2 linked regions of the Homo sapiens genome follow. The protein of the gene in region 1 interacts with the protein of each later gene in a pairwise test. Each region holds a gene or a part of one and is shown on either strand. Other genes may lie near its edges. The genes, in order: LSMEM2 and CLEC12B.

Region 1 (4,514 bases):
TGGTGGCGGGCGCCTGTAATCCTAGCTACTCAGGAGGCTGAGGCAGGAGAATTGCTTGAACCTGGGAGGTGGAGGTTGCAATGAGCCTAGATCTCGCCGCTGCACTCCAGCCTGGGCGACAGAGCGAGACTCCAAAAAAAAAAAAAAAAAAAAAAAAAAAGGTGGTTCCGCGTGACTGAACAGGTTCTGTAGGGCCTTTGGGAATAGTGACACGCAGGGTACATTGTGCATAATATAACTTCAGGACTAAGTGCTAGGAAGAAAATAAAACTGGACCGGGCGCAGTGGCTCACGCCTGTAATCCCAGCATTTTGGGAGGCCGAAGCAGTCGGATCATGAAGTCAGGAGTTCAAGACCAGCCTGACCAACATGGTGAAACCCTGTCTCTACTAAAAATACAAAACTTAGGTGGGTGTGATGGCACGCGCCTTTAATCCCAGCTACTCAGGAGGCTGAGGTAAGATAATTGCTTGAACCAGGGAGGCAGAGGTTGCAGTGAGCCGAGATCGCCCCACTGCACTCCAGCCTGGGCAACAGAGCGAGACTCTGTCTCAAAGAAAAGAAAACTGGGTGATGTGGAAAAGAATGTACACAGAAGGCCTCACTGAAGGGGTGGCATTTGAGTTCGCTGACAAGACGGGGCTGGCCACAGGGCTATCTGGGAGCAGAGCATTCCAGGAGGGAACAGCCACCACCAAGCCCCTGAGGTGGTAACAAGCTTGTTGACTTTGAGGAACATCAGGGAGGCCAGTGTGAGACAACGGAGTGACAGGTTTGAGGTGTGTAGGAAGTAGAGCCCACAGTCTTGCTTTGCCCCCACTGGGAAGGAAGGGCACAGGGATCCAACCACAGAGGGAAAGCTGGAAGCTGGACCACCTCCTCCTTTCAAGGTAAGCAGTGATGCGCATCCTTACACAACCTTATGGGACCTGTCTGCCCTTGTGGAGATGGGAGCAGGGGAAGACCAAAACCGTGGATTGTGCTAAATGCTCCAGATGTTGTTCTCAGTGTACACTGCCAGGGAGGAGCCACTGTTATTCCGACTTTACACATGAGCAAACTGAGTTCAGAGAGGGGAGACCCTTTACCTAAGGTTGCAAGCTTAGTAACAAATGAACCAGCCTCCAACCTAGGTCCACCCACTGGCCAGCATGGGTGCTGTTGGTGTATCTGCCCACTTGTGAAGCTATCAGAGCCCTCATGGCATTGGGATTCAGTTGTCCATCACCCTCTATAAGACACACACAACAATAGCATTGTGTGCTAGCAGGTCATGCAGTGGAGGCTGCTGTGTTTGCTGGGAGGAGAGATGACTGGGCTGTGGGTAGGAGTCTGCAGGGGTAGAGGGGTGGCCAAATAGAGATGCACAGGCTTCCTTTGTCTGTCTTGGCTGCCACATGGGGCCTTGCTGAGCCTGGAGTGGCCATTCTGGATGTATGGGGGAGGTGTGCTTCCCCTTGAAGGTCCCTGGGCACCTGGACTAGTGGAGGCAGGCTCCTGGCTGGCTCCCTCACCAGGTAGATAGTTCAGGCTGGCCCACGTGGATCACTCTGCCCCTTCCCATGGCTGAGGGCTGCCCCCTCTAAATATAGCCCAGTGGGCTGAGCTCAGGCCTATTTTAGGCCAAGGCTGGGAGGCAGCCAGGCCTTCCCTGGGCTCACAAAGGAGCCACTGCTGCATTTGTCCAGTCCTGCTACTGGATGCCATCATTGGCCCCCGACTGCCCACTGCTTGCCATGCCTGAGGAGACCCAAGAAGGTAGGAGAGGGTGACCATGAGGGAGGGCAAGGCCTCAGTCCTGTGACCTTGTGGACCATGGAGAGACCCACCCTCTGTCCCACTGACCTCACTGTCTTGAGTAGTTAGTTACCCATTTTCATGCTCCAGCTCCAGTAAAAGGACCTGCCCCCTGTGCAGGGAGGAAAAGCCTGCCATGCCTGGAGCCCCTTGTCACCTCAGGCCCTGCTTCAGTTTCCCCTGCTGGGGACATCAAGGAGGGATGGGAGAAGCTACCCAGTTAGGAGTGGGTCAACTACAGGCTGTGCTCAGGTGGGTGTGGGCATCCGGTCAGCTGCCTGGCCGGTTCAGCTCTTAAGGAAGGAAGCTGGGATTGGGGTGGGTAGTGGTTCCAGAAAGCATTTGGGTACCTGTCCCATGGACTGAAAAGTAGTTAGGCCTCTGGCCTCCCCTGACTTGGGTCTAAATATCCCCAACTGCCTAGGGTTGGGGGTCCCTTGGCCTGGTCAGACAGAGACTCAGCTAGTCAAGAGCTTGGTGGCCACTCACCTAACTGCACCACTGCATATAAGAAGTACTGATGCTCAGAGGGGCCAGGGCAGCAGGAATCTAGGAAGCTACAGGTCCAGTACTGGCCAGGACGTAGGACTGTCTGCTCCATGGCTCCATGTTATGGCCCATGACAGAGCATGGCCCAGCTAGCAAGCTCCTCTTATCACATTTTCAACTTTTTTTTTTTTTTTGAGATGGAATCTCGCTCTGTCACCCAGGCCGGAGTACAGTGGCGTGATCTCGGCTCACTGCAACCTCCGCCTCCCAGATTCAAGCAATTCTCTGCCTCAGCCTCCCAAGTAGCTGGGATTACAGGCGCCTGCCACCATGCCTAGCTAATTTTTGTATTTTTAGTAGAGACGGGGGTTCACCATCTTGGCCAGGCTGGTCTTGAACTCCTGACCTCGTAAGCCACCCACCTCAGCCTCCCAAAGTGTTGGGATTACAGGGGTGAGCCACCGCGCCTGGCCTCAACTTTTTTTTTTTTTGTCACCCAGGCTGGAGTGCAGTGGTGCGGTCTCGGCTCACTGCAACCTCTGCCTCCCAGATTCAAGCTATTCTCCTGTCTCAGGCTCCCAAGTAGCTGGGATTACAGGCATGTGCTACCATGCCCGGCTAATTTTTGTATTTTTAGTAGAGACAAGGTTTCACCGTGTTGGCCAGGCTGGTCTCAAACTCCTGACCTCAGGTGATCCACCCACCTTGGCCTCCCAAATTGTTGGGATTACAGGCGTGAGCCACTGCCAACATTTTCAACATTGCAGGAGAGGGGCCTTGCCCCTGGTAGGGGGAAATGTTTACTTTCATGCATGTGTGTGTGTAGAGAAGGGTCTCCCTGGTCTTGAACTCCTGGCCTCAACCAATCCAATCCTCCCACCTTGGCCTTTCTTTTCTTTTTTTTTTTTTTTTGAGATGGAGTCTCGCTCTGTCGCCCAGGCTGGAGTGCAGTGGCGCGATCTCAGCTCACTGCAAGCTCCGCCTTCCGGGTTCACGCCATTCTCCTGCCTCAGCCTCCTGAGTAGCTGGGACTACAGGAGCCCGCCACTACGCCTGGCTAATTTTTTGTATTTTTAGTAGAGATGGGGTTTCACTGTGTTAGCCGGCATGGTCTCGATCTTCTGACCTCGTGATCCACCCACTTCGGCCTCCCAAAGTGCTGGGATTACAGGTGTGAGCTACCGCGCCCGGCCAGCCACCTTGGCCTTTCAAAGTGCTGGGATTAGAGGCATAAGCCACTGTGCCTACCCTCTTTTGGGATCTTAACAATAACATTTACTGTGTGTTTTTCCTGTAATAAACAATTCACATTCAATTTAGAAAGTGTGAGAAAAGCACAACAAAGTACAAAGAGGGAAATTTTTTTTTTTTTTTGAGACAGAGTCTTGCTCTGTCGCCCAGGCTGGAGTGCAGTGGCACGATCTTGGCTCATTGCAAGCTCTGCCTCCCGGGTTCATGCCATTCTCCTGCCTCAGCCTCCCGAGTAGCTGGGACTACAGGCGCCAGCCACCATGCCCAGCTAATTTTTGTTTTGAATTTTTTAGTAGAGACGGGGTTTCACTGTGTTAGCCAGGATGGTCTCGATCTCCTGACCTCGTGACCTGCCCACCTCGGCCTTCCAAAGTGCTGGGATTACAGGCATGGGCCACTGCGCCCGGCCCTTTTTTTTTTTTTTTTTTCTGAGACGGAGTCTTGCTCTGTCGCCCCGGGTGGAGTGCAGTGGCACGATCTCTGCTCACTGCAACCTCTGCCTCCCAGGTTCAAGTGATTCTCCTGTCTCAGCCTCCCAAGTAGCTGGGACTACAGGCGCCTGCCACCATACCTGGCTAATTTTTAAATATTTTTGGTAGAGACGGGGTTTCACCATATTGGCCAGGCTGGTCTCAAACTCCTGACCTTGTGATCCACTTGCCTTGGCCTCCCAAAGTGCTGGGATTATAGGTGTGAGCCACTGCGCCCGGCAGCAGGGAATTTTTTTTTTTTTTTTTTTTTTTTTGGAGATAGGGTCTCACTCTGTTGCCCAGGCTGGAGTACAATGGCATGATCACAGCTCACTGCAGCCTTGACTTCCTGGACTCAAGCAACCCTCCCACCTCAGCCTCCTGAGAAGCTGGGACCACAGAAGCATGCCACCACACCAAACTAATCTTTAATTACTTTTTTGTTTTTTGAGACGAGGTCTAGCTCTGTCGCCCAGGCTGGAGTGCAGTGGCTTGAGCTTGGATCAC
Region 2 (3,154 bases), on another chromosome or scaffold:
AATGACAAACACATAAATATTGGCCAGGGGCAGTGGCTCACACCTGTAATCCCAGGATTTTGGGAGGCTGAGGCTGGCAGATAGCTTGAGCCTAGGTGTTTGAGACCAGCCTGGGCAACATGGTGAAACCTCGTCTCTACAAAAAAATACAAAAATTAGCTGAGCATGGTGTTGCATGCCTGTGGTCCCAGGTATTCGGGAGGCTGAGGTGGGAGGGATCGATTGAGCCCAGGAGATTGAGGCTGCAGTGAGCCAATCACATCACAATACTACAGCCTAGGCAACAGAGTGAGACAGTGTCTCAAAAAAAAGTAAATATTAAATTATTATGCCTAGATTATAAATTATCTAAATTTTAAAGATTAATAAGAACGCTTATTTTCATAGGGTTGTTGGAGAAGAAAAGCTATTTTGCAAGTGCAGGGCGACACTTAGCTGGTTCACAGTGGTACAAACATTTGCTAAAATAAAATATTTCCAAATCAGTTGATACAGTGCTGCAGCCCCAGCTACCAGGACCCTTAGCCTGGGATCCCCCAGACCTCCACATGACCCAGCAACTATCACAACAGGCATCTCTTGGACCTTGTTCTAGTGCTGTGGCCTGTGTTTTTAAATATTTAAATATCACCCTAGTTTTTAAATATTTAAATATCACCCTAGTGCACACGTGACAGTATAATAATAATGAAAGAAAGGAGTCTTTATTTGAGAAAGCAAAGAAATTCAGTGAAATGATTCTGAGACAATCATAGGGCCATAGTATGGCTATTCCCCTTTGTCCCCAGGTATAATTTTAAGACCGAATAATAACATCAAATCAGAAGACGTCAGACAAGGAACTGGAGAATGTTCTGTTAAACAAGTTCATTTGTCTGATAATGTAAATACACAGTCATTTTAAAAGCTGGTTTGGCTCTGGTACCGTAGTTTCCTCTTTCCTCATATGAGCTTACTCACAAGTCTCTTACTTCTTGGAGAATTTGGAAGAAGCATACTAATCCAAATCCTCAGTCTTCACTGGGGCAGCTGTCTTCTCGCAAATCCAAAAAATTTCAGCACTACAGCGAGAAATATAAATATTTCCTTTTTGAAAATAAGCACATCCTTTGGATCCATTGATCTGGTCAAGTTCTTTAGTACTAAATCTGAAAATTAATTTAAAATTAATTATAAATTCTGTATTTGAAACGTGATCACTATTTAGTGCCCTCAGTTGCTCTTACAGCCAATGTCATGTATCTGAATATGGAGAGACTTCTGCCTCCACAAAGCTTCAAAATCTGAAGCTGCCTAAAGCTGGCACAAAATCTGCCCAGAGCTGGCACATCTGGGTTCTTTATTTTAAGTTAATCATAATCCCAGGTAGAATTCTTTAAGAGAAATACTTAAATCCTGGACTGAGAATTTGTATTTCCTTCATAAATATGTAATTCCATTAATGAAATCTAATCAGTTCAGCTTATATTAGAAGTACTTGAAGTTCTTTGGGACCTTATGAAGAAAAACATAAAAATAAAATCACATTCTGTTGTAAAAAGTTATCACATTTTATTATGCACAAATATAATTTTTCACATAGTTATACATATGTGGTGGGTAAAAAGAGAACAAGACAGACGTTAAAAGAGGAAATGATTGACTATATAGATATGGTTCTGACAATAGTATTCATTTCCTCTGCTAAGAAATTGATGTTAATCCTGAAATAATGTCTTTAGAAAATTATACTTGTCAGATCTAAATTTTCTTTGTGCCCAACATTGTTTTTTTCTAAATGACCTGCATTACACTGCCATATTCTTTGCTTGCTTCAGGGCTAGGCTTACTAAATCTTAGCCTTGGCCTTTACTCAGTAGTCAAGGAAATGGCTATGCAATCTGGAAGCTCAGTCTCTCTAACCTGTGTTTGACATGCTGGCTTGTCTGACAGCTGCATGTCTCAGGGGCCAGGGTCTGTAGGTTCCAAACCCTGCTGTGGGGGCCACCTCCTCCACACTTTGATTAAGAGTGAGTAGAGAGGCCAAGAATGATTAAAATCCCTTTGGGAGAAGGGACACATCTTAGATTCCAACATGAAAACTGAATGTGTTTACATGATGTCATAGTACTACTCCTGGAAACCCTCAGTCTAGTAGCAACACCTCAGATTAATATTAATCAGTTCATACCCAATATTGCTCTTGTCACAAAAAAGTAACTGTCACTTTTTTTGTTTGTGTATTACTCTGCATGTGCTTTTTGTCATTATTATTAGTGTGAAACCAAACTAATTGACTTGATATGATTAATAATGGTGATTAGAGAATGGGGGATTAGTGTTTGAGTAGAAATAGCCATGACAAAACATTGGGAAATGGATGAAGATAAAGTGTATCCAGGGAGAAAATAATAGACCTACCATTGTTTGTGATTTAAGGAACTGCTGAGTCACAGCTGAAGCATGGCATCTTTGACAGAAGATGAGTGATTATTATTCAGTTTAAGAAAACGTTGACAACATGCTTTAAAGAGTGAAACAGGAGGGAGGGGGGTGGATAATGATTTGTTGGGGGAGGAAGGTAGATAAAAAGCCATTATGAATACAAATATTCTGTTAGATAGAAGAAGTAAGACCTAGTGTTTCATAGATTATTAGGGTGAATACAATTAACAATAATCTACTGTACATTTCACAATAATGAGAAAATAATAATTTGAATGCTCCTAGCATAAAGAAAAGATAAATATTTAAAGTGATCGATATCCCAATTCCACTTATTTGATCTTTACACACTATCTGAATGTATCAAATTATCACATATACCCCAAAACATATACATCTCTTATGTATCAATAAAAAGTTTAAAAATCCATTAAGATGCCAAAGATCTTAAATTTTATCTAATAGAAAAATACTATTATATTTAAAATATTAATACAGTTGTTTCATTTAAATGTAGTTATGATGAGAGGTGTTCCTCAAAATTTTTTGTTTTATAGTCTGTGAAAGAATTTAGCAAACCTAATATCCCCTTACACATTTTTGTTGACGTCTATTTTTTCATAACTTTAAATAGTTAAAAAAATTGAAATTTTCCAAGTGTTATATATTCTATTTGTCCTTTAAATAGTTTCATCCAAACCCTGAAGTGGAAGGTTTAGTTCATTTTAAT

Evidence for each region.
Region 2: the proteins of LSMEM2 (region 1) and CLEC12B interact in binary tests that used the Homo sapiens proteins (3 or more experiments, as listed by UniProt).

What each region holds. Positions count from the first base shown.
Region 1 is NC_000003.12:50,277,414-50,281,927, forward strand, and holds the start of LSMEM2 (leucine-rich single-pass membrane protein 2), read left to right. Parts: upstream 1-1,673; 5' UTR 1,674-1,700; coding exon 1,701-1,758; intron 1,759-4,514.
Region 2 is NC_000012.12:10,016,325-10,019,478, reverse strand, and holds the end of CLEC12B (C-type lectin domain family 12 member B), read right to left. Parts: exon of another isoform or gene 1,530-3,154; intron 1,149-1,529; coding exon 998-1,148; 3' UTR 683-997; downstream 1-682. UniProt on the Homo sapiens protein: Inhibitory receptor postulated to negatively regulate immune and non-immune functions. Upon phosphorylation, recruits SH2 domain-containing PTPN6 and PTPN11 phosphatases to its ITIM motif and antagonizes activation signals.